Linked DNA regions of Homo sapiens. The protein of the gene in region 1 interacts with the protein of each later gene in a pairwise test. Each region holds a gene or a part of one and is shown on either strand. Other genes may lie near its edges. The genes, in order: MRM1, GSN, AQP3 and SYT3.

What was found.
Region 2: the proteins of MRM1 (region 1) and GSN interact in binary tests that used the Homo sapiens proteins (3 or more experiments, as listed by UniProt).
Region 3: the proteins of MRM1 (region 1) and AQP3 interact in binary tests that used the Homo sapiens proteins (3 or more experiments, as listed by UniProt).
Region 4: the proteins of MRM1 (region 1) and SYT3 interact in binary tests that used the Homo sapiens proteins (3 or more experiments, as listed by UniProt).

What each region holds. Positions count from the first base shown.
Region 1 is NC_000017.11:36,604,022-36,609,764, forward strand, and holds the end of MRM1 (rRNA methyltransferase 1, mitochondrial precursor), read left to right. Parts: intron 1-3,648; coding exon 3,649-3,781; intron 3,782-3,877; coding exon 3,878-3,997; intron 3,998-4,221; coding exon 4,222-4,394; 3' UTR 4,395-4,943; downstream 4,944-5,743. UniProt on the Homo sapiens protein: S-adenosyl-L-methionine-dependent 2'-O-ribose methyltransferase that catalyzes the formation of 2'-O-methylguanosine at position 1145 (Gm1145) in the 16S mitochondrial large subunit ribosomal RNA (mtLSU rRNA), a universally conserved modification in the peptidyl transferase domain of the mtLSU rRNA.
Region 2 is NC_000009.12:121,319,568-121,327,428, forward strand, and holds part of GSN (gelsolin), read left to right. Parts: intron 1-1,700; coding exon 1,701-1,834; intron 1,835-4,986; coding exon 4,987-5,077; intron 5,078-6,944; coding exon 6,945-7,115; intron 7,116-7,740; coding exon 7,741-7,861. UniProt on the Homo sapiens protein: Calcium-regulated, actin-modulating protein that binds to the plus (or barbed) ends of actin monomers or filaments, preventing monomer exchange (end-blocking or capping).
Region 3 is NC_000009.12:33,444,320-33,452,558, reverse strand, and holds the start of AQP3 (aquaporin-3), read left to right. Parts: upstream 1-4,965; 5' UTR 4,966-5,028; coding exon 5,029-5,136; intron 5,137-8,239. UniProt on the Homo sapiens protein: Aquaglyceroporins form homotetrameric transmembrane channels, with each monomer independently mediating glycerol and water transport across the plasma membrane along their osmotic gradient. Could also be permeable to urea.
Region 4 is NC_000019.10:50,622,571-50,630,431, reverse strand, and holds part of SYT3 (synaptotagmin-3), read left to right. Parts: intron 1-260; coding exon 261-648; intron 649-919; coding exon 920-1,138; intron 1,139-4,414; coding exon 4,415-4,535; intron 4,536-4,867; coding exon 4,868-5,039; intron 5,040-5,137; coding exon 5,138-5,270; intron 5,271-7,676; coding exon 7,677-7,742; 3' UTR 7,743-7,745; intron 7,746-7,861. UniProt on the Homo sapiens protein: Ca(2+) sensor involved in Ca(2+)-dependent exocytosis of secretory vesicles through Ca(2+) and phospholipid binding to the C2 domain.

The DNA.
Region 1 (5,743 bases):
CCTGGAGAGTGTCATCCGCCTGTTGCTGTGGAAGAGCTGGAGGTGCCCCAAGCAGGGGCCTGTGCTGGGGCCCCATCCCTTCCTGCGTACTCAGAGACACTGCTGTAGCAATTTTCCTCCTCTTCCTGCAGCATCCACTTTTCTCTTACACTCTCTTCAGCATGCAAGCAAACATTCCCCTCTCACGCTCTTGATCTCACACCAGTCAGCTCTTCCTCTCACACTGAATCAAAGGCTTCATCAAGGTCACCAGTGGCCTCCATGTTGCTGCATTCCAGGGTCTGTTCTCAATTCTTTTCTGACTTGACCCATCTGCAGCAGCTGGCACAGTTGACCACTCCTTCCTCCTTGAAACACTATACCTGCTTTCCTTCTGCTTCACCATGTCCTCTCTGAGAGACATTTTTAGTGGTTCTTCCTCAACCCCCTGACTTCCGAGCATTAGCATTTCCCAGATTTTAGTCCTCGGATCTCTTTTGTTGTTGTTGTTAAGAGATGGGGTCAGCTGGGCACAATGGCTCACGCATGTAATCCCAGCACTTTGGGAGGCTGAGGCAGGCAGATCATGAGGTCAGGAGATCAAGACCATCCTGGCTAACACGGTGAAACACCATCTCTACTAAAAATACAAAAAATTAGCTGGGTGTGGTGGTTCGTGCCTGTAGTCCCAGCTACTCGGGAGGCGGAGGTAGGAGAATCGCTTGAACCCGGGAGGTGGAGGTGGTAGTGAGCCGAGATTGTGCCACTGCACTCCAGCCTGAGTGACAGAGTGACGTGTCAAAAAAAAAAAAGAGATGAGGTCTTGGCCGGGAGCGGTTGTTAAGAGATGGGGTCTTGGCCAGGCACGGTGGCTCACGCCTATAATCCTAGAACTTTGGGAGGCTGAGGCAGGTGGATCACCTGAGGTCAGGAGTTCGAGACCAACCTGGCCAAAATGGTGAAACCCTGTCTCTACTAAAAATACAAAAATTACCTGGGCATGGTGGCGGGCACTTGTAATCCCAGCTGCTCGGGAGGCTGAGGCAGAAGAGTTGCTTGAATCCAGGAGGCGGAGGTTGCAGTGAGCCGAGATCACAGCGTTGCACTCCAGCCTGGGCAATAAGAGTGAAACTCTATCTCAAAAAAAAAAAAAAGAGAGAGAGAGAGAGAGAGAGATGGGGTCTTGCTGTGTTGCCCAGCCTGGAGTCCAGTGGCACAATCACAGCTCAGTATAGCCTCCGAATTCCTGGGCTCAAGCCATCCTCCCACCTCAGCCTCCTGAGTAGTTGGAGATACAGGTGCACACCATCTCACCTAATTTTTTTCTTTCTTTTTTCTTTTTCTTTTTTTTTTTGTAGAGATGAGGTCTCACTTTGTTGCCCAGGCTGGTCTCAAACTCCTGGCTTCAAGAAGTCCTCCTGCCTTAGCCTCCCAAAATGCTGGGATTACAGGCGTGAGCCACCTCACCTGGTCCTGGATCTCTTTTCTGTATATGTTCATTTCTTGTTGGTCTCATCTAGTCTCATGGCTTTAAATACTATCTGAATTCAAATTCCCGCCCAAGTGTATACTCCAGCCTGGACCTTGGTTCTGAATTCCAGATTCACTCATCTAGTTGCCTACTGCACAGTTGTTGTTATTGTTGTTGTTGTTTTGCTGTCAGGCGGGCATTTCAAACCTAACATTTCTAAAACTGAGCGCTTGTTCCTTCTGGAGCAACTCCATCCCTTTGGTTGTTTAGGTCAAAAACCTTGGCATCATCCTTAACTAAAGTTATTTCCGTATTATCACCATTTCTGCCTGTTTCCACTGCTACCACTCTGGCCCAAGCAAGTCACCATCATCTGTTGACCGTTATTGCAGAAACTTCCCACCTGGCCTCCTTTCTTCTGCTCTTGGCTCTCAGCACAGCAGGCAGAGTGATTCTGTTGAAGTCATACCATGTTACTTCTCTGCTCAAAACCTTTCAAAGCCTCTGTACCGCTCAGATTCAAAGGCAGAGTCCTTCCAGTAGCCCTGGAGACCATACCTCATGTGGCTCTTGTTCCTTCTTCTGTCTTGACGCCTCTCTTCCCACTGGCCACCTTACTGTTCTCAAACATGCCAGGGAGGCACCTGCCTCTGTGCTTGCTGATCTCTCTGCCTAGAATGTTCTTGCCCCAGATGTCTGCACGGTGCTCCTCCTTCTCCTTCAGGTCTGCACTCAAATGTCACCTCAGTGAGTCCATCCCCACCTGCCCTTCCACAAGGCTGGGATTTTGGTCTGTTTTGTTTTGTTCAGTGCCCTGTCCTCAGTGCCTAGAACAGAGCCCATGCTAGGTGCTTAATAACTATTGACTAATTGACTGGATCAGCAGATAAATGAATGTATGGGCAAGGCTGGGCTCTTCCTTGGCCAGGGCTCTGATGGATAATTTTTTTTTTTTTTTTTGAGATGGGGGTCTCACTCTGTCACCCAAGCAGGAGTGCAGTGGCGCAATCTTAGCTCGCTGCAATGTCTGCCTCCTGGTCTCAAGAGATCCTCGTGTCTCCTGAGTAGCTGGGATTACAGGCTGATTTTTGTATTTTTAGTAGAGACAGAGTTTCACCATGATGCTCAGGCTAGTCTTTTTTTTTTTTTTGAGACAGAGTGGAGTCTCGCTTTGTTGCCCAGGCTGGAGGCAGTGGTGTGCTCTCAGCTCACTGCAACCTCCGCCTCCCGGGTTCAAGCGATTCTCCTCCCTCAGACTCCCAAATAGCTGGGACTACAGGCATGTGCCACCACACCCAGCTAATTTTTTGTGTGTTTTTAGTAGAGACGGAGTTTCACCATGTTAGCCAGGGTGGTCTCAAACTCCTGACCTCAGGTGATCCGCCCGCCTCGGCCTCCCAAAGTGCTGGGATTACAGGCGTGAGCTACTGCGCCTGGTTTTTTGTTTTTTTTTTTAATTTGAGATGGAGTTTCACTCTTGCTGCCCAGGCTGGAGTACAATGGCGCAATCTCGGTTGACTGCAGCCTCTGCCTCCCGAGTTCAAGCGATTCTCCTGCCTCAGCCTCCTGAGTAGCTGGGATTACAGGCATGCACCACCATGCCCGGCTAATTTTGTATTTTTAGTAGAGACGGGGTTTCTCCATGTTGTTCAGACTGGTCTCGAACTCCCAACCTCAGGTGATCCCCCTGCCTTGGCCTCCCAAAGTGCTGGGGATTACAGGCGTGAGCCACCGTGCCTGGGCCAGGCTAGTTTTGAACTCCTGACCTCAGGTAATCTGCCTGCTTCAGCCTCCCAAAGTGCTGGAATTACAGGCTTGAGCCACTGCATACAGCCTCTGATGAAGATTTGATGAATTAGAATAGGAGAGGCAGGCATGGTGGCTGACGCTTGTAATCCTAGCACTCTGGGAGGCCAAGGTGGGAGGATCGCTTGAAGCCAGGAGTTCCAGACCAACCAGGGCAACATGGCAAAACCTCATCTCAAAAAAAAAAATGCAAAAACTAGCCGGGTGGGGTGGCGAGTGCCTGTAGTCCCAGCTACTTGGGAGGCTGAGGTGGGAGGATCACCAGAACCCAGGCGGTTGAGGCTGCGGTGAGCTGTGATCGTGCCACTGCACTCCAGCCTGAGCGAGAGTAAGACCCTATCTCAAAATTAAAATAAAAAAAGAATTAGAACATATCTTCTTCCCCCTTTCAGACCAAAGCCCAGCAGGGCTGGCTCGTGGCCGGCACGGTGGGCTGCCCAAGCACAGAGGATCCCCAGTCCTCCGAGATCCCCATCATGAGTTGCTTGGAGTTCCTCTGGGAACGGCCTACTCTCCTTGTGCTGGGTAGGTGGATGTCCCTGCGTTTGTGCCCAGATTACATTTCCCGAGCAACTGGGTGTCCAGCTGGGCAACCCTAACCCTCAGCCCCACGCCCTGCAGGGAATGAGGGCTCAGGTCTATCCCAGGAGGTGCAGGCCTCCTGCCAGCTTCTCCTCACCATCCTGCCCCGGCGCCAGCTGCCTCCTGGACTTGAGTCCTTGAACGTCTCTGTGGCTGCAGGTGAGTCTACTCCCCTTTCCCTTTCCTCTATCCCTCTAATCACGCAGGTGGGATTTGATGCCCTCTAATCCCATTTGCTGGCTGTTTGTGTGCCTCAGTTGCTTTATGTACAAAATGGGGAAATTACATCCCGTTGATGAGATGAGGGGCTGCCTGAATGTCTAGGTCTCTAAACATCATCCTTCTCCTCCGTCCTCTCTTCCCTTGTCCTTGTGTCTGTGCAGGAATTCTTCTTCACTCCATTTGCAGCCAGAGGAAGGGTTTCCCCACAGAGGGGGAGAGAAGGCAGCTTCTCCAAGACCCCCAAGAACCCTCAGCCAGGTCTGAAGGGCTCAGCATGGCTCAGCACCCAGGGCTGTCTTCAGGCCCAGAGAAAGAGAGGCAAAATGAGGGCTGACGTGGACTGTCCACAGTGTTCATGTGCTGGAGTCAGGGACGGCCGCACCTGCCTCCGCCGGCTCCAGTGTGCGGGGAGCCTCTGCCTGAGTGTGCACCAGGCCCATGTTTATTGACCACAGTCTGGGGGGGGGGGAAGGGGACTGCGGTGGACACCAGAGGAAGCTGTTTCCTGTTGTGATGTTGGACCTGTAGTAGGACATGGTGATTTGTTAATTTCCATGGGAAGCCATGATGGCCTAGCATGGAGGGAATCTGTTCCCAGGCCCTGCCTGGAAGTTGAGGGAAAGTTTAGACATCTGCAGAGAGGCAGGCAGCCCAGCCCAGGGGACCCGTTCCTCTTGAACCAGTCATTGCCTGTGGCAAATGTGTGTATGAGAATGTGGGGGGTGGAGGGCGGGGCCCTGATGTGGAGTAGACAGTGCGCACCTCAGGCCCACACACGGCCCCGCCCTGGGGCCTTGAGCGCAGGCCTCATCTTTCTGTGCCGCGGGACTCCGCACCTACCTCACAGGGTTGTTGTGAGGCTCAAATAAAACATCACTCAGCACGTGGGAGATTCTGGCCAATTCCTCCGTTAGGTGGCAGCCTCGCTCTTCGGTCCAGTCTTCAGGCAGCTTCCACAGCCTCCTTGCGGGGAGACTCCTGGCTGCAGCCCCATGAGAGGCGACGGGAAATTAGCAAACACCTCCCACCCCACGGGGGCCCCCCACGGGTGACTGAGTCAGTTCCCTTCAAGGGGAGGAACTGGGAGCAGGCTTGCCGTTGATTGTACAACCGAGACAGATTTGGCACTCCTCCCCTCGGGTCCCAGGAAAGCAGCAGGAGCCAGCAGTGTGAGGAGCATAGAAGTGTTTCTGTCCTGGTGGCACATTGGAACCACCTGGCATGCTTTAAAAAACCCAACACTGACACCAGAGAGTCTGACATGATGGGTGTGGCGCCACCTGGCATCCGGCTTTCGAAAGCGCCACCATTGGTCTAATGTGCAGCCAAGGCTGAGAATCACCACTAGGGCAGGTGGACTCAAATTCCACACCCTTGACATTTTGGGCCAGATAATTTTTTGTTGTGAGAGCCATCCTGTGCACTGTAGGATGTTTAGCAGAATCCCCGACCTATACGCACTAGATGCCTGTAGCATGACCTCTCATTATGAAACCAGAAATGTCTCCAGACGTTGCCAGATGGCTTCTAAGAGACAAAAATCTCCCCTCCTGGAGCATGGCTTTGGAGGATAGCAACCCCGAACTTGCAATCCTGACTGCTATGTGACCTTGGGGGGGCGCTCCTTACCCACCTGGGCCTCGGTGCCCTCCTGGGCGAAAGGGGAATAATCCTACCTTCCTG
Region 2 (7,861 bases), on another chromosome or scaffold:
CTGCCTCGGCCCCCCAAAGTGTTGGAATTACAGGCATGAGCCACTGCGCCCGGCCACCTGCTTTAGAAACTCACTGTGAAAATGGGTTGGAATATGACTCCAGGATATCATTAGAAGAAAAAAATCAGTTAAAAAATAAATAAAAGAAAAATAAAAAGAAAACTAAGAAAATGGATTGGAGGCAGGAAAATGAAGGTAGAGAGCTTATAAGGAGCTTGTTCTAATACTGTAGGGGAAAGATGATGACCTTGAGACTAAGAAGGTCACAGTGGAGAAGGGGAAGAGGGGTGTGGGGTTCAGAGGTGTTTAGGAGGTAGAATCCGCCTCAGGCAAACTTGACTCCGTTCCTAATGATAGGAATAACAAAGTGTTCATTTTTATATATTATTGTTTTTGGTTTGGTGCTAGCATTCATTTGTTGCTTCAGTGGCTAGGGAGAATGCAATGAAAATATTTCGGGTGGGGCGGTGTGGTAAGACCCCTGGCAGCCTGACTGTGAGACTTTGGGCAAGTTACATAACCTCTTTGAGCTTCACTTTCTCACTTGTAAAGTGGGGTTTCATCCCACTCCATCACCTTCAAGAATGTTCAAAATCCAGAGATTCTAGGATTCTGTTTCCCAGGACTTGGACGACTCCGTGTCTCCATAGCTCCACCAGGTGGCGCTGCCGGGCCTCGTGACCACTTGGAAAAAGCAGTGTCACCAGAACGCTGCGGAGACCTGCCAGCAGGGGTCACACTGAGGTTGCCTCGTGGTGTCCCTGCCTCTGCAGGTGACCTATGAAATTCCTGGCAGGCCCAGCACAGTGGCTCACGCCTGTAATCCCAGCACTTTGGGTGGCCGAGGCGGGTGGATCACCTGAGGTCAGGAGTTCGAGACCAGCCTGGCCAACATGGTGAAACCCCGTCTCTACTAAAAATACAAAACTTAGCTGGCCATGGTGGCAGGCACCTGTAATCCCAGCTACTCGGGAGGCTGAGACAGAAAAATTGATTGAACCCGGGAGGCAGATGTTGCAGTGAGCCGAGATTGCGTCATTGCATTCTAGCCTGGGCAACAAGAGTGAAACCTCGTCTCAAAAAACAAAAAAAAAAAAAAGAAAAAAAGAAAGAATCCAGGCAGCTCAGTAACAATAGAGGTAATGGTGATATTAGTAAGATAATAATAATAATTATGACAATAAGAGCAGCTGCCACCTACAGAGCAGTCCCTTTGTGCCGGGCCCTGTGCTAGACTTTCACGAGTAATCTCGTTTGAGCCTCACAGTACTTTGAGGTAGGTACTATGATTATCCCCATTTTTCAGATGGGAAAACTGAGGCTAAGAGTGGTTAAGCCAGTTGTCTGAGGTCTCATGGCCCGGAAGGGGATGAGGGGCCTGATTTGGGGTCTGTGTCTGGCTCCTCCCCTCACTGTACTGCATTCCTTTGGAGCTGCCTTGACGATCCTCAGCGAAGGACAGACGGGCTGGGGCAGGGCATGGTATGAGGAGCCCAGGCAGGAACCCTGACCCAGAGTCCCAGCCCTGCCTTCTAGTGGCTCTGTGAGTTGGGCAAACCATTTAACTCCAGTCCGAGCCCAAGTGATTAAAAGTTCATCCCATGGCCTAACCACAACCTACCACACTGCGGTTTCCTGGCTTGCCTGAGCTGGGGGGTGGGGGTGCTGCACAGCATCTGACTCCAGCTTTGCTCCTGCAGATCTGGAGAATCGAAGGTTCCAACAAGGTGCCCGTGGACCCTGCCACATATGGACAGTTCTATGGAGGCGACAGCTACATCATTCTGTACAACTACCGCCATGGTGGCCGCCAGGGGCAGATAATCTATAACTGGTGAGGTTCTGGGGCCATTGGTGTGTGTCGTGGGGGTACTGGCTGGGCCCTGAGCAGGGCTGAAGACAAACTGAGGGTGTGAGGGCCTGAGGTGGGACCACCACTCCCTGCTGGGAGAGGCTTTTGTCCACAGGGCAACACCATTTGCTTATTTCTCCAAACAACTTTGAAACTCTTCTTACCAAATGATTATACATCTATTGTAGGATATAGTGAATGTGGAGAAACAAACAGAACATCTCCCACAAATCCATGACAAGTACTAGGCACACTAGGGTTTATCCTCCCACACATATTTTTCAAGCCAAAATTTTTTTAAATTTATATTTGTTTATTTATTTATTTATTTATTTATTTTGAGACAGAGTTTTTCTCTTGTTGCCTAGGCTGGAGTGCAGTGGTGCGGTCTCGCTCACTGCAACCTCTGCCTCCCAAGTTCAAGCAATTCTCCTGCCTCAGCCTCTCTAGTAGCTGGGATTACAGGCACCCACCACCATGCCTGGCTAATTTTTTGTATTTTTAGTAAAGACGGGGTTTCACTATGTTGACCAGGCTGGTCTCGAACTCCTGACCTCAGATGATCCATCTGCCTCAGCCTCCCAAAGTGCTGGGGTTACAGGAGTGAGCCACCACACCCAGCCCCAAAATTATTTTAAAACAGAGAATACATTTACATGGTTCAAAAATCAAAACAGAATATAAAGGTATTTATTGAGAAATCTTATTCCCACCCCTGTCCCTCTCTACCCCATTCTCCAGACCCCACCCCTTCTTGGGTAACTGCTTTACTCTCTTGCATATCCTTCCAGTAACTCTTCGTGAAAAAAAATACATATGCAAATAATTTATAGCCTGGTCCCTCCCTTCCTTACACAAAAGGTAGCATACTTTGTATATTGCCCTGCACCTTGCTTTTCTGACTCCATTCTTCCTAGAGATCAATAATGTCAGTACATAGAGACAGAGAGCTTTCTCATTCTTTTTTACAGTTGCATAATAGTCCTTTGGGTGGCTGTACTATAGTTTATTTAACAAATTCCTTGATGATGCATACTTGGGTTGATTCCAGTCTTTCTCTATTACAAACATTGCTGTGATTAGTAACCTTAAACAAACATCACTTTGAACATGCAGAGACATGCCTCTAGAGTAAGTTCCCAGAAGTCAGATTGCTGGGTCAAAGAGTAACTGCACTTGTCATTTTGGTAGATAGCCCCCAATTTCCCTCGATAGTGTTCGTAGCATTTTACATTCCCACCAAGCAACCTGTGAGAGTCCCTGGTTCCCTATAGTCACACTCGTGGATTGTGTGGTCAAACTTTTGGGCGTTTGCCAATCTTATGGTTTATAAAATGGTGTCTCAGTGTATTTTTAACTTGTATTTCTCTTACTATACAGTCTAAAACTTTTTGTCTGATTATTGACTGTTGGATTTTTTTTTTTTTTTGAGACAGGGTCTTGCTCTGTTGGCCAGGCTGTAGTGCAGTGGTACGATCTCTGCTCACCACAACCTCTGCCCCCCGGGGCTCAAGCAATTATCGTGCCTCAGCCTCCTGAGTAGCTGGGACTACTTGCCACTACTCACCACCACACCCGGCTACTTTTTATACTTTAGTATGGATGGGGCTTTGCCATGTTGCCCAGGCTGGTCTCGAACTCCTCTAAGCGATCTGCCTGCCCCAGCCTCCCAAAGTGTTGGGATTATAGGCATGAGCCACCACGCCAAGCTGGATTCCTTCTTTTTTTAAACTTATTTTGAAATAATATTAGACACTTGCTGAAAAGTTGCAAAAATAGTACAGACAGTTCTCATATATCCATTACCCAATGGAATATTCACCTATGTTCACATCTTACATAACCCTTACATAACCATAGCACAATTAACAAAGCCAGGAAGTGAACATTGACACAATACTACTTACTAATCTATAGGCTTTACCTAAATTTCCTCAGTTTTCCCATTACCGTTTTTTTTTTTTTTTTTTAGACAGAGTCTTGCTCTGTCGCCAGGCTGGAGTGCAGTGGCATGATCTCGGCTCACTGCAACCTCTGCCTCCCAGGTTCAAGCAATTCTCCTGCCTCAGCCTCCTGAGTATCTGGGACTACAGGTGTGCGCCAACACACCCAACTAATTTTTGTATTTTTAGTAGAGACGGAGTTTCACCATGTTGGGCAGGCTGGTTTCGAACTCCTGACCTCAACTGATCTGCCTGCCTTGGCCTCCCAAAGTGCTGGGATGACAGGCATGAGCCATCGTGCCCGGCCCCCACTACTGTTCTTTTCCTGATCTAGGATCTAACCCAGGATCCCACATGGCATTTACTCATCATGTCTCCAAAGTCTCTGAATCTATGGCAGTTGCCCGGTCTTTCCTTTTTTTCATGCCCTTAACACTTTTAAAGGGTACTAGTCAGTTATTTTGTAGAATGTCTCTCAATTTGACAACCCCAGACATTTAAAAACAGCTTAATTTTTTTTTTGACTAGATAACACATTCACCTGGTACAAAATGTGTGAGAAGACTGTTTTAAAAATTAGCTGCATCAGCGCATTAATAGGTCAGATTTTGTTTGCTTATACGACGACATATGTTGGTTATGGAAAACTTAGACAATATGCAAAGAGGTGGGATAGAAAGGCAAAATCCCCCTAAATCTTCCCTCTAAGAGCAATCACCATGGACCTTTTTGGTGAACATCTGTGCAGACCTCTCTGCACGTGTTCATGGGAGGCTTAATCACTGACATCTTTTCCCACAAATAGGCTCTCGTAACACTTGCTATTCTGCGACCTGCTTTTCCGCCCAGAGAAATGTCCTGGCCACTTTTCTGCATCTCAGATTTGAGTCTCAGAGCATCTTCTCTGTGGCTGTTCAGCATGGGATGACCCAGCCAGTCTCCTGTGGGACACATTTAGCATAAGGAAATCCATGCGTTGCACTAAGATCTCTGTAAGCGGGCAAGATGCTAGGCTGAGAGTGGAAGTGTTGGTGTGGTTCCTGGCTCTCGTTGTTCTGAAAGAGTCCCCTTCCCTCTCTATCTGTTTCATTACTGGTAACAGGGAGATGTGTAGGTTTCTCAGACTCAGGGCAAGGGAGAGGCTCAGGGCTCTGTGTGCACCCTGATGCTGAATCTCACTTCCCCTTCCAGGCAGGGTGCCCAGTCTACCCAGGATGAGGTCGCTGCATCTGCCATCCTGACTGCTCAGCTGGATGAGGAGCTGGGAGGTACCCCTGTCCAGGTGAGCCCAGCCCACCGCCTCTCTGGGCTGCAGCCTGAGCCTTGTCCTTCTCTTCACTCATCTGTCTGACTCTCATCCATCCATTCGTTTGTCCATCTGTCTGTCTGTCCATCCATCCATCCATCCATCCATCCATCCATCCATCCATCCATGGAACAGGTATTTATTTAGGGCTTCCATGTGTTCCACACTGCATCTGTAGCCATGGACACACAGACACACTGTCCCTGCCCTAGTGGACTTTGCTGTCTTGGGTGGTAGTAGACATTCAACACACAGGCACACCAATGGCTATGACAGATGCAGTGAGTGAAATTGACAAGACCTTGGGAGAGAGACATGGGAGAGGCCATGTGGCTGAGCACGGATGTGGAACCAGCATGCTTGGGTTTGAATCCTGTCCTCACCTCTGGGCAACGTTGGGCAAGTCACTTAGCCTCTCTGTGCCTCTGTGTCCTCAAAATAGGGGTAATAACAGTACCATCCCACAAGATTGCTGTGAGGATTAAGAGTTAACATTTGTAAGCATTTAGAATCATGCCTGCCATATAAGAAGTGCCCCCTTATACATATGTGTTAAGTACAAGGAGGTAAATCCTAGGTAGGATCCTATTGGATTAGAAAAGCCCACCCCTGTCCCAGGAGGGGACTGTTCAACTGGGACCTGATGCACGTGTAGGAGTTGCCCAGGCAGAGTGAAGGAAAGCACATTGTGGGTAAAGGGTGGTACACATGCAAAGGCCCTGAGGTGGGAGGGGGCATTGGGTGTTAAAGCAAGGGGAAAATGCCATGATTTGAGGCTAGAGAGGTGCTCAGAGGGGCCAGACCACCAGAGGCCATAGTGACGATGTTGACCTTGATGCTGAGAACAACAGGAAGTTGCTGAATGATAAGTCTGAGGTGTAGGGATTTCTGGTTTAAAAAGTCACTCTGGCCAGGCGCTGGAGGGCAGCAGAGCTGGTTTGTGGAAATATAGGGGAAGCGGACAACAACTGTGCTTCCTCCGTCCTACGGTGGGAGTGGGCAGGGCTCTAGATTGGCATCGGGGGTTCGTGCCCTGACCTTTGACTATGATAGACTGGGTGCTGGGCACTAAATGAGATGATGACCATCTTAGCTCAGTGCATCCTGACAACAGCCTTGGGAGTAGCATCCTTGGCTGCATTTTTCAGAGGAGGAACTCAAGAGGTTGAGACACGTGCCCAAGTTCTCACCATCAGGGTGGAGTTGGGGTCTAAGCCCTAACTCAGCGGTGGTGGGTCGTGGTGGGAAGCGACTGCCATATGCCTGACGTACATGTGAGGTTTTCTTCTGGACATAGTTAGCCGGGGCCACGGTAAGGTGCCGCACACAGGGCAGGAGCAGATGTGAGGGTGTACATCTTCCCTGCCTCACTCCCACCACCAAGCCCCTGACTGCTGCCCGCATCTGGGGTGCACTGGCTCTGCAGGAGGGGGTTTTCTGGATCTAGAATGCTCTGTTCTTACCACTCCACCAGCAGTCATGCCCAGGCCTGACGTCAGCATTCTGGAAGAATGTCCACCAGCAATCCCTGTGCTTCTATTTAAGGGAACATTTGCAAACACAGGCTCTCCTGGTTCTTGGACCAGGCTGAGGATCAGGAAGGCATGTCGTCATGGAGATGGAGAGCAGCCCAGCAGCAGTGCCCTGGGGACCTCAGACAATAGCACTGTCTCCACCCTTCCTGGAATTCTGGTGTCCCTGCCTGTGTGTTGTCGGGTCACATTCCATGCCACACACAGACACAAGCATGATGGCTTCGTCTGGAGGGATGGGCCCAGTGCGACATAGAAGGACTGAAGCCTGCCCCCAAGGTCCCTGACTTGCTCTCCTGTCTCCCTGCCAGAGCCGTGTGGTCCAAGGCAAGGAGCCCGCCCACCTCATGAGCCTGTTTGGTGGGAAGCCCATGATCATCTACAAGGGCGGCACCTCCCGCGAGGGCGGGCAGACAGCCCCTGCCAGCACCCGCCTCTTCCAGGTCCGCGCCAACAGCGCTGGAGCCACCCGGGCTGTTGAGGTAATTTCCAGGTCCTGGAACACAGAAGGGATTGGCCTCCCTGAAACCTCCCAGCTCAATGACCAGATCTCCAGGCACAGGAACGGGGGCAGGGGATGGTGAATGACGGGGTAAGAAGCAGCTTTTTGTATTTTCCTGCCGTGGCCACAGGGTTGTCTGTCTTAGACTCCCCCCTGTTTCAAGGATACCCAGTGTCCCTTGCACACTTTGCACAGTGGACAGCTCACTACCTACCATTCTGTACAATCAGCATGCCATTCCTGATTACGTTCCAGTTGCCTACTATCCCTTTCACGGAGGAAGGCACAGATCTGGACTTGATTCCCAGGATGGTCTGAGCAGCCTAGAGGGGAATGGGACTCTCACCTCCTTTGTTCTGGGCATTCAACTTCTGTTAATGCAGCCCTGATTTTTAGAATCATGTTGGCTAGTCACAGTGCATTAGTGACTCATGGGAGTCAACCAAGGCCATCAGGGTCCAAAGTCTGTGCCCTCAGCTCTGATGGGCTGTGTTCCTCCAAGTCCCCACCTGAGAGCTAGTCCTGCTGCGGGGTCTCCTGGGCTGTGAGGAGGGGGCTGAGGGCTTTTTGTCTGGTTCCTGATTAACCAAGCTGTACCCTCCCAGGTATTGCCTAAGGCTGGTGCACTGAACTCCAACGATGCCTTTGTTCTGAAAACCCCCTCAGCCGCCTACCTGTGGGTGGGTACAGGAGCCAGCGAGGCAGAGAAGACGGGGGCCCAGGAGC
Region 3 (8,239 bases), on another chromosome or scaffold:
AGGGGGTGGGGAACAAGGACATTGAGACCCAGCCCTTGTTCTGCTAGCTAAACCATGTGCCTTGGCATGCAGCTGCATTGACTGGAGGGGGTTGCAAAGATACTCTATGGTGAGCTGCAGTCCAGGATTATAGATAGACACATACATGCATGCATACATGGGTGAGTACAGGTAGCTGCATATGTATAAATAAATGCTGCTCAACGTATATAAGACAGACAAATCCATAATTGTGTGTGTAACTAGCTACTTCCTGGTGCAGCCCACGAGAAAACCCATGTGAGGTGAATGCAGACAGATGTGTGTGCAGGTTGCTTTTTTGTTTATTTGCTTTTTGAGACGGAGTCTGTCTCTGTCGCCCAGGCTGGAGTGCAGTGGTGCGATCTCTGCTCACTGCAACCTCAGCCTCCTGGGCTCAAGCGATTCTCTGGCCTCAGCCTCCCGAGTAGCTGGGATTACAGGTGCCTACCACCATGCCCGGCTAATTTTTTTTTGGCGAGGGGATAGAATTTCGCTCTTGTTGCCCAGGCTGGAGTGCAATGGCACGATCTCGACTCACTGCAAGCTCTGCCTCCCGAGTTCAAGCGATTCTCCTGCCTCAGCCTCCCAAGTAGCTGGGACTACAGGCGCACACCACCACACCTGGCTAATTTTTGTATTTTTAGTAGAGATGGGATTTATCCATGTTGGCCAGGCTGGTCTCGAACTCCTGACCTCAGGTGATCCATCTGCCTTGGCCTCCCAAAGTGCTGGGATTATAGGAGCAAGCCATCGTACCCGGCCTAATTTTTGTGTTTTTAGTGGAGACAGGGTTTTACCATGTTGGCCAGGCTGGTCTTGAACTCCTGAGCTAAAATGATCTGCCTGGCTTGGCCTCCCAAAATTCTGGGATTACAGGCATGAGCCACTGTGCCCGGCTCCAGGCCAGGTTCCTTTTTTTTTTTTTTTTTTTTTTTTTTGTGATGGAGTCTCGCTCTGTTGCCCAGGCAAGAGTGCAGTGGCGCCATCTTGGCTCACTGCAAGCTCTGCCTCCCAGGTTCATGCCATTCTCCTGCCTCAGCCTCCCGAGTAGCTGGGACTACAGGCGCCCACCACCACACCCAGCTAATTTTTTTTTATTTTATTTTTAGTAGAGATGGGGTTTCACCTTATTGGCCAGGATGGTCTCGATCTGCTGACCTTGTGATCCGCCCACCTCAGCCTCCCAAAGAGCTGAGATTGTAGGCGCGAGCCACCATGCCCGGCCTCCAGGTTGCTTTTATAAGGGAAGAGGAAAAGAAATAAAAAATAGAAGTGTGTGTAGTGTCTGCTGGTGAAAGAGCTTCCCCTGTTTTTCTCCCCTGCTCTGGTTCCCAGGCTAGATTTGGATGCCAGCAGACCCAGGATGGGACAGGGTGACAATGGGGTGTTGTGGGCTGGGTTTCCCTATTTTCTTTCGGTGTTGAGGAGTCCCTTGCCAGTTTCTGCCCTGTGCTGCCTTTGCAGCTCCACTTGAGGCAGGGATGGGCTGGATGCATATTATAGGGTGGGAGGAAAAGGGGGCAGCATGGCAGGGGTGCTCTACCACTCCCATAGCCTGTGATCTGGGCCCTGGCACCAGGAGTCTATGGTTCTGTCTTGAGTCACAGGCTGGCAGTGGGGCCAGAGGGCAGGTACTCAGTGATGGCTCCCTGATTCACCACGGGGCCTCCCAGCCTATAGAGGCCTGGAGGGTAGGGTGCATCTTTCTGGGTCAAGGGTCATTAGAGTCCTCATGTGGGGGTTCTATATATGTGTGAGCCCATGGCGAGGCTCTCATGTGAATGGGATCCCTGATCATGGGAGCAGAGCTCAGTGTCTATAGGCAAGTGTGTGACTGCAAACCACAGGGTGTGTGTGTGTGTCTGTGTGTTTGTGTGTGTGTATGCGCAAGCACCTGCATGTATGTGAATCTACTTCATGTGTATGCTAAACCCATCTCTTTGGGCATGAACCACCTCTGGGACTGGGAGCCCTTATTTCCTTTCTTTTCTTTTCTTTTTTAACATGCCTATCTAGGCCAGGTACGGTGAATCATGCCTGTAATCCCAGCACTTTGGGAGGCCGAGACGGGTGGATCACCTGAGGTCAGGAGTTCGAGACCAGCCTGGCCAACGTGGTGAAACCCCGTCTCTACTAAAAAAAACAAAAAACAAAAAACAAAAAAATTGGCTGGACATGGTGGTGCATGCCTGTAATCCCAGCTACTCGGGAAGCTGAAGCAGGAGAATCGCTTGAACCCAGGTGGGGTGATCTTGGCTCACTGCAACCTCTGCCTCCTGGGTTCAAGTGATCCTCCTGTCTCAGCCTCCCGAGTAGCTGGGATTACAGGCATGTGGCAGAGGTGGTTGATGCCCAAAGAGATGGGTTTAGCAATACTCATAATCCTACAATCCAAGCACTCTAGGAGGCCAAGGTGGGCAAATTGCTTGAGCTCGGGAGTTCCAGACCAGCCTGGCCAACATGGCGAAACCCCTTCTCTACAAACAATACAAAAATTAGCCGGGCATCGTGATGCATGCCTGTAGTCCCAGCTATTTGAGAGGCTGAGGTGGGAGGATTGTTTGATCCCATGAGCTAGAGGCTGGAGTGAGTCATCATCCATGTTTTTAAGAGCTTGTTTAGCTTCTTCTGCTACCTCTCCTGACACAACCTGTCCACTTGAAGGGTCCATGCCTATCTGTCCTGAAATGTCAATGGTCCTGTCACCTAACATAGTTTGACTGTAGGTCCCAGTGGCCCCTGGGGCTTTCTTGGTGCTGATCACATTTCTGATCAAGGACGACAGGACTAACCCTTCTCTCTTTTGGTCCCTCTGGGAGAAGAACCTCTGCACTAGCCCTGCTCGCTTCTCAATGAACCGTGGGAGCCCTTTTTTTTTTTTTTTTTTTTGAGATGGAGTTTGGCTCTTGTTGCCCAGGCTGGAGTGCAATGGCATGATCTCAGGTCACTGCAACTTCCGCCTCCTGGGTTCAAGTGATTCTCCTGCCTCAGCCTCCCGAACAGCTGAGATTACAGGCACCCGCCATCACGCCCGGCTAATTTTTGGTATTTTTAGTAGAGACAGGGTTTCACCATGTTGGTCAGTGTGGTCTTGAACTCCTGACCTCAGGTGATCTGCCCGCCTCGGCCTCCCAAAGTGCTGGGATTATAGGCGTGAGCCACCACGCCCAGCCGGGGGCCCTTATTTCTCATATTCGTCCCTCAAGGGACAAGTCCTCAGGGTCATTAGCCCACCTGGATTAAGTCCCTCTGGAAAATGATTTCTTTGATCTCCTCTGGCAATGCTGCCATAGAAGCTCAGCCTAAGGGCATGTTGTTTGCTCCCAGGCCACCAGATGTTTCCTTGTTATTAAAAGCAGCATAGAGGGCAAGGTTGCACTTCGGGAGGCCGAGGTGGGAGGATCGTTTAAAGCCAGGAGTTTGAGACTAACCTGGGCAACATAGCAAGACCTCATTTTTACAACAGATTTTTAAAAATTAGCTGAGTGTCATGGTGGCACATAGTCCCTATAGTCCCATCCATTCTGGAGGCTGAGGTGGGAGGATCACTTGGGCCCAGGAGTTCGAGGCTACAGTGAGCTGTGATTGCACCACAGCCTGGGTGATGGAGCAAGACCCTACTCTTTAAAAAGAGAGAGAGGGCAAGGTTGTCCCATGATCCCCCTCAGATAGGGCTGACTCCCCCATAATTAAGTTTGCTTAAAGAGGCAGACTTGCTGGGCTCAGTGGCTCACGCCTGTAATCCCAGCACTTTGGGAGGCTGAGGCGGGTGGATAACTTGTGGTCAGGAGTTCGAAATCAGCCTGGTCAACATGGTGAATCCCCATCTCCACTAAAAAAACAAAAATTAGCTGGGCATGGTGGTGTGCACCTGTAATCCCAGCTAATCGGGAGGCTGAAGCAGGAGAATCACTTGAACCTGGGAGGTGGAGGTTGCAGGGAGCCGAGATCACGCCATTGCACTCCACCTAGGCGACAGAGAGAGACTCCGTCTAAAAAAAAAAAAGAGACAGACTCTTCCTTGGCTGGGGGTAAGTCAGATGGGAGAGGAGAGGGTTAAAAACAGCTGGGACTCAGCCTGCTGGCAAACATGTGGCATGTGGCATGTCGGGGCAACTGCAGCTCAGCCTCTGGAGCCATGTGAGCAATGCACGCAGGTACACGTGTGACAAGCTAGGTCACCTAGCCATGTTCAACAGGCATGTGCACAGCCACGAGGAATGCCCAGCCGTACAATTAGGCACACAGGACATCCGCCATGTGTAGACACAGCTGTGGACATAGCTGGCCAGGACATGCGACACACGACGTGCTCATAGCACAGGGAGAAGGGCCCATGAAGTCTGGTTGGAACTCAGCACGTGTGTCTGTGTGCCCACCTGAGTCTGGACTGCTGCCCCTCTGACACTAGCTGTCCCCTTGAAGGGTCGGTGCCTTATCTGTCCTGACAGAAGAGACAGTGTTGCTTCTCACTTGGGGCTCGCAGCCTCCTCCTCCTGCCTCGAACTGAGGATCTGTTGGGTCCAGTCATCCTGGAGAGATGCGGCCAGTTTCTTTCTGACAGGTCTCCTCCTGCCCGCAAGGAAGTGGGGTGATCACAGGGCGCAGGTGGTCTCTATGACAGCTGCATCCTCTCCAGCCATGGCCCTGAACCCTGCCTATAATCCCACCATTGGCTCTCAGATCTGCCTAAGCCTCTCAGCCCCCTTGACGTCCCCTCCCTTAAGCGCCCTCCGAAGGCCACCCGTCCCTCAAAGCTCCTCACACTCCATGCCCGCAGCTCCCTCCACCCGGCGTCCGCACCAGCCTCCCAGCCGAGGTGGGGCGGGGGCGAGGGGGCGCGCACTCCTCGGCGCTCCGGGACTGCAGGGCGGGGCTGCAGGGCGGGCGGGGCCCGTGTCTCCAGCGCTCCTATAAAGGGAGCCACCAGCGCTGGAGGCCGCTGCTCGCTGCGCCACCGCCTCCCGCCACCCCTGCCCGCCCGACAGCGCCGCCGCCTGCCCCGCCATGGGTCGACAGAAGGAGCTGGTGTCCCGCTGCGGGGAGATGCTCCACATCCGCTACCGGCTGCTCCGACAGGCGCTGGCCGAGTGCCTGGGGACCCTCATCCTGGTGGTGAGTGGAGGGAGCCGGGGAAGCCCTTCTCTCTCCAGCCCTTGCACTCCCCAAACTCTCACTTCCCCGAAGGGGCTGTGTTTTCCAAGGTAGCCTGGACCCACCTCCCCAGCTGTGACCCCCACGCTTAACCGCGGAGGATCAAGCTGACTTCCAAAGTCCTCTTCCCCACGGTTCTAACCCCCTCTCTGACAGCTCCGACTCTTGCCAGAATGACAGCTGTTACTCCCCAGTGATAGTGCCGATCGTTTACCCTCCCACAAGTGACTCAGCCAACAGGCTGGGGGCAGCGGTCACGCTTGCAGTCTGGGACAGCCAGCCACTTCCCCTGCCTCCCACACCCCTCCAGATTCCCAGAATCCCAGCCCCCAGATGTAGGGGAGGGGGCGGAGGCAAATGAGCCATTATTAGGTTATTTGGGTCCTGGGTGTCTGGCCTCTAATGAATAATTAAGCCTCAAAAAGTCCAAAGGTTGAAGTGAGTGAGGACAGTTTGCACGAGTGGGGGCAGAGGGTGCAGGCCACATGGGCTGCGAACAGCGAAGTGGGAAGGGAGGCAGATTCTGACGGTAGAAGGGTGGGAGGAAGCTAGGCCCAGGCACAGAGGACGCGTGTCTAAAGTTGCTCACCTGGTGCTCAGCGACTCCCAGGCCCTGTCTGTTATCCAGACAGATGCTGTCAGCGTCTGTGCAGAAGACGACAAGCATTCTGGTTACTCCCTGGCCTCTTGGTTACTCTGTGGGTTCTCTGAGTGAGCATTTCCCTGCCTGAGTTACTCCTCAGTCCTAGTTACTCCTTGGTCACACCAGTTTCACCCTGGTTTTGTTCTGAGTGACTCTGTTTGCACTTCTTAGGTCTGGCAGACCCACCAGTTATGTTCTATTTCCTGTCCCAGTTACTCTGATTTTTCAGCCGCTCATGTGGTTACACCTGTTTTCCTCTGTGTTCAGTTGCTACATTGCAGTGAGTGGGTTACTCCGTTCCTGCCCCAGCCCTGGGTAGTACAGACCAGCTGGCCCACTGTGGACTAGGAAGCCTAACTAAGGGCAAGTAGGGATCCCCAAATGGTTGAGGATCAGGATCTATGGGCAGAGGAGGGCTGAAACCCACTTCTGGCTTCCAAGAATAGGAAGTGGGGAAGCCACAGGGGGCATTTTATCCACAGCCTCCCATAAGATTAGTCGTCCTATCAGCCAGCCCTAGCCCCTCTCTCCTGTGCCAAGAAGGCAATAGGAGGTGGCCTTTATCACTCTCCTGCCTCGGAGCCCTCACTCCTATCGGAGTCCTGAGTCCAGCCACCTGTTTTAGAGCAGCCAGGCTAGGGGAGGATGATGTCTTCTATTTTCCTAGAGGGGCCTCCTCATTCCCTCCCAAGTCTCAGTTCACTCTCTCACAAAGGAGCCGTTAGTCCTCCCACTGAGCCCCAGGATCATCAGGCTTATCCCAGACCACAAAAGAAGAGTGTTAAATTTTAGGGGAAGGGTTGCAGACTCAGATGGATGTGAGGTATTGGATATCAGTGAGAAGCAGAACTTCAAGGACTGCATGAACTGGAGGGGCAGGCCTGGGGATCCCTTTGTAGTGGGTGAGTGCCTGCCTGCCTACCTGCGTGTTGGGAGCCTAGGCCTGCAGTGGCAGAATCAGGGTTGGCTTTGGGGTGAGGAAAGCCCCTTTCTCTGAGATACCTGGTGTGAGGGCAGGGGGCGGTGCTGGCCGAGAACTCAGGGCAGGGGTTGGGGGAGGAAGAGGAAGATTAGCCCCAAGGTGGTGGAACTGGCTCTGACAGCTCCTCCCTCCAAGGCGTCCTGGGATGGAGCCAGGTCTGAGCCTTTGGCAGGCAAGGAGCTGCTGCCAGGGCCTCCCAAGCAGGGCAGGGCGCCTCAGACCCTCACGTGCCTGTCTCCCACCACCCCTCCTCACACATACACCTGCAATCTCTGATCTTTGCTCTCACCTGCCTGCACACCTTTGCCCCATGTCATTGCCGCTGGCTTCTCCGTTATCTCTTGGTCTTTCTGGGATGATAATCAAAATGCTTAACTATCCAGTACAACAGGCACTGACCCGTCAGAATAAACAAGGTCTGTAGCACAGGTCCTGGAAACTGCCTGCTCTGTGGGCATAAAACCTTTAGTTATGGGCAGGTGGGAGAGGAGACCAGGGCAAGGCATTGGAGCAGCTTTGAGGGACACTCAGGGGGCTCAGGGCAACAATGCTTTACAGCTGCTGCAGAAGTATTTTCAGGCTTGAACAAGGGGAACAGACATAGTACGTTCTTTTTCTTTTTTAAATAGAGACAAAGTCTCACTATGTTGCCCAGGCTGTTCTCAAACTCCTGGGTTCAAGATCCTCCCATCTCAGCCTCCAAAGTGCTGGGATTACAGGTGTGAGCCACCACAGCTGGCTCCAGTATGTTCTATATTTGTAGAACACCAGGGCTCTTAGTCTCTTTTAGTTCCCCCATTTTTGGCAGAAAGTTTAGAACCGATCTCCCCATTTCTACAGCCCTGGGTCCCGGGCTGGGGATAGTGAGAGGAGCCACACAGATCCCTGTCTGTAGGACCTCCAAATCTGAGTGGGGAATCTGGACCCCTGAGAGCAGAGAGGTCATGGGTGGAGAGAGGAGACGCTGGGACAGGGACAGGTAAAGGAAGGGGAGGTTGTTGAGGGGGACATGGTGAAGGCTGGGGCTCTGGCATCCTGGACTCAGGAGAAGTGGATTCAACCTCACTTCTGGTCTCCTCCCTATTTATTTATGCCGCCCATTGCCACCACTACCACCACCACATGAGCTTTTCTTTTCAACTCTTTTTTTTTTTTTTTTGAGATGGAGTCCCGCTCTGTCGCCCAGGCTGAAGTGCAGTGGCGCAATCTTGGCTCACTGCAACATCTGCCTCCCATTTTCAAGTGATTCTCCTGCCTCAGCCTCCCGAGTAGCTGGGATTACAGGCACCTGCCACCACGCCTGGCTAATTTTTGTACTTTTAGTAGAGATGGGGTTTCACTATGTTGGCCAGGCTGGTCTCAAACTCCTGACCTCAGGTGATCCACCCACCTCGGCCTACCAAAGTGCTGGGATTACAGTGTGAGCCACTGCACCGGGC
Region 4 (7,861 bases), on another chromosome or scaffold:
AGGAAAGAAGGAAGGAAGGAAAGAAGGGAGGGAGGGAGGGAGGGAGGGAGAGAAGGAATGCCCCCCAGATACCAATGGGGAATCTGAGGCTCAGAGAGCACAGTGGCTTCCTCAAGCTCACACAGTGAGCAAAGGAGGGGACTTGTGGCCACCTGGCTGGGGGATGGGGGGAAAGGCAGGGAGGAGTCTCCCAGGTCTCTGCATGCAGTCGAAGATCAGAGCCACTGACCTCACCTTGGTCTCCCCCCAACCCCCTACAGGTACCCAGCCCTGCCCCGACCCCTCACCCAGCAGACTCTGACCTCCCAGCCGGACCCCAGCAGTGAGGAGCGGCCACCTGCCCTGCCCTTACCCCTGCCTGGAGGCGAGGAAAAAGCCAAACTCATTGGGCAGATTAAGCCAGAGCTGTACCAGGGGACTGGCCCTGGTGGCCGGCGGAGCGGTGGGGGCCCAGGCTCTGGAGAGGCAGGCACAGGGGCACCCTGTGGCCGTATCAGCTTCGCCCTGCGGTACCTCTATGGCTCGGACCAGCTGGTGGTGAGGATCCTGCAGGCCCTGGACCTCCCTGCCAAGGACTCCAACGGCTTCTCAGACCCCTACGTCAAGATCTACCTGCTGCCTGACCGCAAGAAAAAGTTTCAGACCAAGGTCCGGAGCAGCGGGCTGGACACCGGGTTCCCACAGAGAGGGAGCTAGGGCTCTGGACTCCCGGGTCTGAGGGAGGAGGGGCTGGGGGCCTGGACTCCCGGGTCTGAGGGAGGAGGGGCTGGGGGCCTGGACTCCCGGGTCTGAGGGAGGAGGGGCTGGGGGCCTGGACTCCTGGGTCTGAGGGAGGAGGGGCTGGGGGCTGGACTCCTGGATCCTGTGGAGGAGGGGCTTATGGGCACGGTGTCTGTCTCCTGTCGCCCACCACCACCAGGTGCACAGGAAGACCCTGAACCCCGTCTTCAATGAGACGTTTCAATTCTCGGTGCCCCTGGCCGAGCTGGCCCAACGCAAACTGCACTTCAGCGTCTATGACTTTGACCGCTTCTCGCGGCACGACCTCATCGGCCAGGTGGTGCTGGACAACCTCCTGGAGCTGGCCGAGCAGCCCCCTGACCGCCCGCTCTGGAGGGACATCGTGGAGGGCGGCTCGGTCAGTGGCCCTCTCCCCTGACCTTCCCCTTCCCAGGGCCCTGAGACCCCCCGGGTTGCAAGCCCCCTGCCCTCAGAGTTCATAACTTCCTCACTTCTTGTCCCCACATTTTTCTGTTAAAATGTATCACACTGGGGAAGACTGCAAACTTACAGGCAAGAATAGAGAATGAGCCGGGCGCGGTAGCTCATGCCTATAATCCCAGCACTTTGGGAGGCCAGGTGGGCAGATCACTTGAGGTTGGGAGTTCGAGACCAGCCTGGCCAACATGGAGAAACCCCATCTCTACTAAAAATACAAAAATTAGCCGGGCATGGTGGCACATGCCTGTAATCCCAGCTACTTAGGAGGATGAGGCAGGAGAATCGCTTGCACCAGGAAGTGGAGGTTGTGGTGAGCAGAGATCATGCCATTGCACTCCAGCGTAGGCAACAAGAGCGAAACTCCGTCTCAAAAAAAAAAAAAAAAGAACAGATAATGATACAGTGGACACCATTCCTCTCCTCAACATCGCCAAATGTTAGCATCAGGTCTGGATCCGATTTTCCAACCTCTCACCCGCTTTGCCATAGGATGCCTTCCTGCCTCAACCCCATGACTTCTCCCCTCTCACCCCAGACTTCTTACCTTCCTAACTTCCTGACTTTCCAATGACTGGACTTCTGGAAGCCCCAGTCCCTCTCTAATCTCTGAACTTCTGAAAGCCCCAATCCCTCTCTAATCTCTGAACTTCTGAATTTTCCCAACCCCTGACATTGGAACTCTTTCATATTCTGACCCTCTGTTTTTTCATGGTCCCTGCCCGAATGCTGATAGCTTGATCCCCCAGGCCTCAGCCATCCTGGGATCCCCAATATGCAGACACTCCTCAGTTCTCCCAGCATCCAGATTATAGGGCCCAATGGCTTCTTCCTTATTCCTTGCGACCCCTGCCCTCTGGTATCTCATTCTCCCTGTACCTCCAATCCCTCCCCAGCCCCATTCTTAGGTACTTCTTGTGTGTGTGTCCTGAGCTCTTCTGCCCCACCAAATCTCAGATCCTCAACTCTACAGCGCCCCCGCTCCAACCTAATTTGTGGATTATCCAACATTCCAGTTCTCTGCCAATCTGGGGTAGCTGTGTGTGTGTTGTGGGGAGGGCGGCCTTCATATCAGGAGAGGACTAGACCTCCTCAAGGTTCTTTCCTTTTCTGAGCCTCAGTTTCCCCATCTGTTCAATGACAGATGTCCAGTTGAGCTGGGTGCCAGGTAGGCTTTTTGGGTAGCTCTTTGGGTAGGCTTCTTCATGGGGCCCTCCCCAGCCTGCCTGCTTGGCCCCCAAGCCCAGCCTTTGAGATTGAAGTGCCCAGTTCCAAGGTCCCAGGGCCCCTGTGTATTCCACCAGCTCCTACTCCCAGTCATCACCCATGGCAGCCCCATGCCAGGGCCTTCTCTCTGTATCCATGCTGGCCTAATTCTTGTGCTCACCCTTCTCATTTTCTCTCTCCATCATCATCACTTGAGGTTTTCCTCACTCATTCCATTGATTCATACATTCTCTCTCTCTCATTTTTTTTTTTTTTTTTTTGAGACAGAGTCTCTCTCTGTCACCCAGGCTGGAGTACAGTGGCGCAATCTCAGCTCACTGCAACCTCCACCTCCCGGGTTCAAGTGATTGTGATTCTCATGCTTCAGTCACCCAAGTAGCTGGGATTACAGGCACCTGCCACCATGCCCGGCTAATTTTTGTATTTTTAGTAGAGACAGGGTTTCGCCATGCTGGCCAGGCTGGTCTCGAACTCCTGAGCTCAGGTTAACCGCCCACCTCAGCCTCCCAAAGTGCTGGGATTACAGGCATCAGCCACTGCACCCAGCCTTCATTCATTTCTTCAACCACTGTTTTTTTCAGGAGCAGGGCCTGGGGACCCCAGGCAGCCCTCGGCAGCTCCAGGTCTAGATGGTCGGGCCTTGTGTCAGGGGCCAGGGTTATGGGGAGGCACAGGAGGAGCCTCTGCAGGGCTGTGGGGGATCTGGGAGCTTGTGGAACGAGGGGAGGCTCAAAGGCCAAGGAGAGATAGAGGGAAGAGTGTTCTGGCAGAGGGACAGCCTGGGCAGATGCCCTGAGGGGAATGAGTAGGGAGTCCTGGGCACAGTTGGGAGGCCGCAGGGCTAGGCCAGGTTGGTCAAAGCTCCCAGCTAGCTCCAGCGTGGCTCCAGCCTGTGTGTCAGGGTTGGGGGCAGTCCTGGAAACTTCGGTGGAGGTTGATGAATCTCCTGCCCTCTCTCAGGCTGGTTTATGTGTGTGTGTCTGCTTGGTCTTTGTCCCACTCTGTCTGAGTCAGCCTCTCTCTCTCTCTCTCTCTTTCTCTTGGTGCAGGGAGTAGGGTATCTGAGTCTAGGTTTCTCTCTCGCTCTCTGGTCTCTGCCCCTCCACTCTAATTCTAGGTAACTATCACTCTCTCTGGGTCTTTATGCACCCCCAACCCACTGTCTCTGTCCCTCTCTCTCTCTGGGCCTCTGTCTCTCTCTGAGTCTCTCTCTATATATATCTCTCTCTCTTTCTCTCTCTGGGTCTCTGTACCCCCTGTCTCTGGGCTTCTGTCTCTCTCTGGGTCTCTATCTCTCTGTCTCTGGGTCTCTGTCCCCCTCTCTGTCTGGGTCTCTGCCCCTTTCTCTCTCTGGGTCTGTCCTCCTCTCTCTGGGTCTCTGTCCCCCTCTCTTTCTGGGCCTCTGTCCTCCTCTCTCTCTGGGCTTCTGTCCTCCTCTCTCTCTGGGTCTCTGTCCTCCTCTCTGGGTCTCTGTCCCCCCCCCTCTCTCTCTGGGCCTCTGTCCCCCTCTCTCTCTGGGTCTCTGTCTCCCTCTCTTTCTGGGTCTCTGTCTCCCTCTCTCTGGGTCTCTCTCTGTGTCTGTCTCTGGGCCTCTGTCCCTCTGACTTGAGAACTTTGCCTGTGGGTCTGTCTTTCCAGCTGTATCCCTCCGTGTTTTGGCTTCTGTCTCAGTCTATTTCTCTTTGTGTTTTCTCTCTCTCTCACCTTCTCTGTCTCTCCCCTCCTCTCTCTCTCCCCTCACTCATGCTTCTTCCAATCTTTCCTGCAGAACAAATAAGCTTTGATGGTCATGGGCAGCTGTGGCCAGGGAATTACTGGGCCTTGTCCCAAGAGTCAGATTGCTAAGTGGATGGGAAGCCTGAGCCCTGGATGTCAGGGTGTAAAGCAGGAGGCTCCGACCGGAGAGAAAATCAGGGAGAGTTGAAGAGGGGCTGAGGCAAGATATCGCTGACCTTTTCCCCAACTGCAGGAAAAAGCAGATCTTGGGGAGCTCAACTTCTCACTCTGCTACCTCCCCACGGCCGGGCGCCTCACCGTGACCATCATCAAAGCCTCTAACCTCAAAGCGATGGACCTCACTGGCTTCTCAGGTGAGGGTCCTGGGTCTGAGGGAGGAGGGCTGGGGGCCTGGACTCCTGGGTCTGAGGGAGGAGGGGCCAGGGGCCTGGACTCCTGGGTCTGAGGGAGGAGGAGCTGGGGATCTGGACTCCTGGGTCTGAGGGAGGAGGGGCCAGGGGCCTGGACTCCTGGGTCGGAGAGAGGAGGACCTGGGGTCTGGACTCTTGGGCCTGAGGAAGGAGGGACTGGGGGCCTGGGGCCCCGGACCTCTGGGTCTGAGGGAGGAGGGGCTCGGGGCCTGGGGTCCTGGACCCCTAGGTCTGAGGGAGTGAGTCTCTGTTCCTTACTTCATTGCTGTTCCCAGACCCCTACGTGAAGGCCTCCCTGATCAGCGAGGGGCGGCGTCTGAAGAAGCGGAAAACCTCCATCAAGAAGAACACGCTGAACCCCACCTATAATGAGGCGCTGGTGTTCGACGTGGCCCCCGAGAGCGTGGAGAACGTGGGGCTCAGCATCGCCGTGGTAGACTACGACTGGTGAGGGGCGCGGCCCGGGCGGGGGTCAGGCAGGAGGGCTGGGGTGGGGACAGGCCCTCCCACCACCCTCCACGGTCCTCACTGACCCCAACCCCCAGCATCGGGCACAACGAGGTGATCGGCGTGTGCCGTGTGGGCCCCGACGCTGCCGACCCGCACGGCCGCGAGCACTGGGCAGAGATGCTGGCCAATCCCCGCAAGCCCGTGGAGCACTGGCATCAGCTAGTGGAGGTGAGTAGGGGTCCCACACCGACCCCTGACAAGCACCCGTGCACCCTCGGCCCCTTCATCCATGCAACGAACGCCCTGCATGTTCGTGAGTCGCAGAGCCAGGCGTCCTAGGTTTCAATCCCTGCTGTGCCAACTTTAGCTGTGCGGCTTAGAGCCAGTTACCCAAGCGCTCTGTGCCTCAATTTACCCACTAGGAAATGGGACTGTTGATAGCATCTTCTGTTAGGATAGAGGTGAGATGTGCTGAGTTAAACGTTCTGTAGGTGGTCGCTGCTGTTGTTACCCATGAGGCTAAGTTGAAAATAGAGGGGGCTGGGCGTGGTGGCTCACGCCTGTAATCCCAGCACTTTGGGAGGCCGAGGAGGGTGGATCACCTGAGGTCAGGAGTTTGAGACCAGCCTGACCAACATGGAGAAACCCTGTCTCTACTAAAAATACAAAATTAGCTGGGCGTGGTGGCGCACGCCTGTAATCCCAGCTACTTGGGAGGCTGAGGCAGGAGAATCGCTTGAACCTGGGAGGCAGAGGTTGCGGTGAGCTGAGGTGGCGCCATTGCACTCCAGCCTGGGCGACAGAGCAAGACTCTGTCTCAAAAAAAAAAAAAAAAGTCATTTAAGATTATCGCTTGATCAGGAGAAATAATCAAACATGGCCATTCTCTCAATAGAAAACAAGAGGAGCAAAGAAGTAGCTTTAGAAAGTGTTATTGGCAGATTTGCCTCCATTAAAAGCCAAGAAAGTCAAATTATTCAAATTCTGTCTAGGGTATATATGAAAGATTTAAATGTAAAATAATGTTGTGAATTTCAACACACTTACTTCATTTTTCAGTATTTTTCAACTAGTTTAGCATTCCAGGAAAAATAAATTTAGAAAAAATATATAAAAACTTGGGCAGGGCACAGTGGCTCATGCCTGAAATCCCAGCACAGGCCTTGGGAGGCCAAGGTGGGTGGATCACTTGAGCCTGGGAGTTTAAGACTAGCCTGAGCAACATGGGGAGAGCCTGTCTCTACAAAAATAATTTAGGAATTAGCTAGGCATGGTAGTGTGTGCTTATAGTCCCTGCTACTCAGGAGGCTGAGGCAGGAGGATCTCTTGAGCCCAGGAGTTTGTTACTGCAGTGAGCTATGATCTCACCACCACACTCCAGCCTGGGCAATGGAGCAGGAACCCCTCTCCTTAAAAAAAAAAAAAAAGCAAGTATATGAGGGCACATACATTTCCTTTGAAATAGCAGTCTGATGTGGCATGAGACTGGCCTTTTTTAAAAATTTGATATTTTCTTCATCATTGATTTTTTTGCATTAATTTTGATTTTTTTTAAAATCTTGCATTATTATTATTATTGTTATTATTGAGACAGAGTCTCACTCTGTCACCCAGGCTGGAGTGCAGTGTTGCAGTCTTGGCTCACTGCAACCTCCCCCTCCCTGAGTACAAGTGATTCTCCTGCTTCAGCCTCCCAAGTAGCTGGGACTACAGGCGTGTGCCACCTCACCCTGCTAATTTTTTTTTTTTTTTTTTTTTTTTTTTTTTTTTTTTTTTGTAGAGACAGGGTTTTGCCATGTTGTCCAGGCTGGTCTCAACTTCCCACCTCAAGTGATCCACCCACCTTGGGCTCCCAAAGTGCTGGGATTATAGGCGTGAGCCACCGCGCCTGGCCAATATTGCATGAAATATTCTTTATCTTGATTGCTGCATTTGGGGCACACATTTACATTTAGTACTGGGTGAAACTTTCACCACATCACCAGATTTAGTCTGGCCCTGCTGTGGGCTTTTTTCCAGTGATCATGAGGGACCCGACACCTGGGCACAGAACTCAGATTTGAGATTGGAAAAGACGGGGACTCTACTAAGGTGGATAGGATGGAGGCTACTCCCTCCTCCTGTCATTCACTCATTCATCCGTTCATTAATTCATCCCACCAACCTTCCCAGGAGTTTCTGGTGAGCCACTGCCCATGTTGGGCAACGCTGGTGGCACAGAGTCTAGGCCGAGTCCTGACACTGCCCATGAATTTCAGCCCCTCATGCTCCCTGTGGCCCCAGAAGATCCTTCTACACCCAGAGCTTCCCCTCCCCTTCCTTGCTCACAGCCCTCCCGTGGCTCCCCAGTGGCCCCAGGACAGAGTCTCAGCCCCTCTGATACCATGCAGGACTTGCCCCACTCATCCCTACAGCCTCATCTCTCCTCGCATTTGCAGAGACTCCTCTTTTTTGTGCCTCCATTTCCCCATCTGTAGAATGGAATTGTAATACCATCTGTCCGTCACTTCAGGGCCAAGTGAGAAAGCGCATCCTAAATAATGAAACAGGATTGACGTCTTCTCCTGTTGATGATTAGCATCTGTTTCAACTCTCTGTCTCTCACTCCCGAACCTTCTGCACTTTCTCCTTTAGGAAAAGACTGTGACCAGCTTCACAAAAGGCAGCAAAGGACTATCAGAGAAAGAGAACTCCGAGTGAGGGGTAAGCAGCCTGGCCACAGGGAAGGGGCTGGGGGTGGAGATGCCTGCGTCTGAGGGAGGAGGGGCTGGGGGCCTGGACTCCTGGGTCTGAGGGAGGAGGGGCTGCGCCTGGGACTC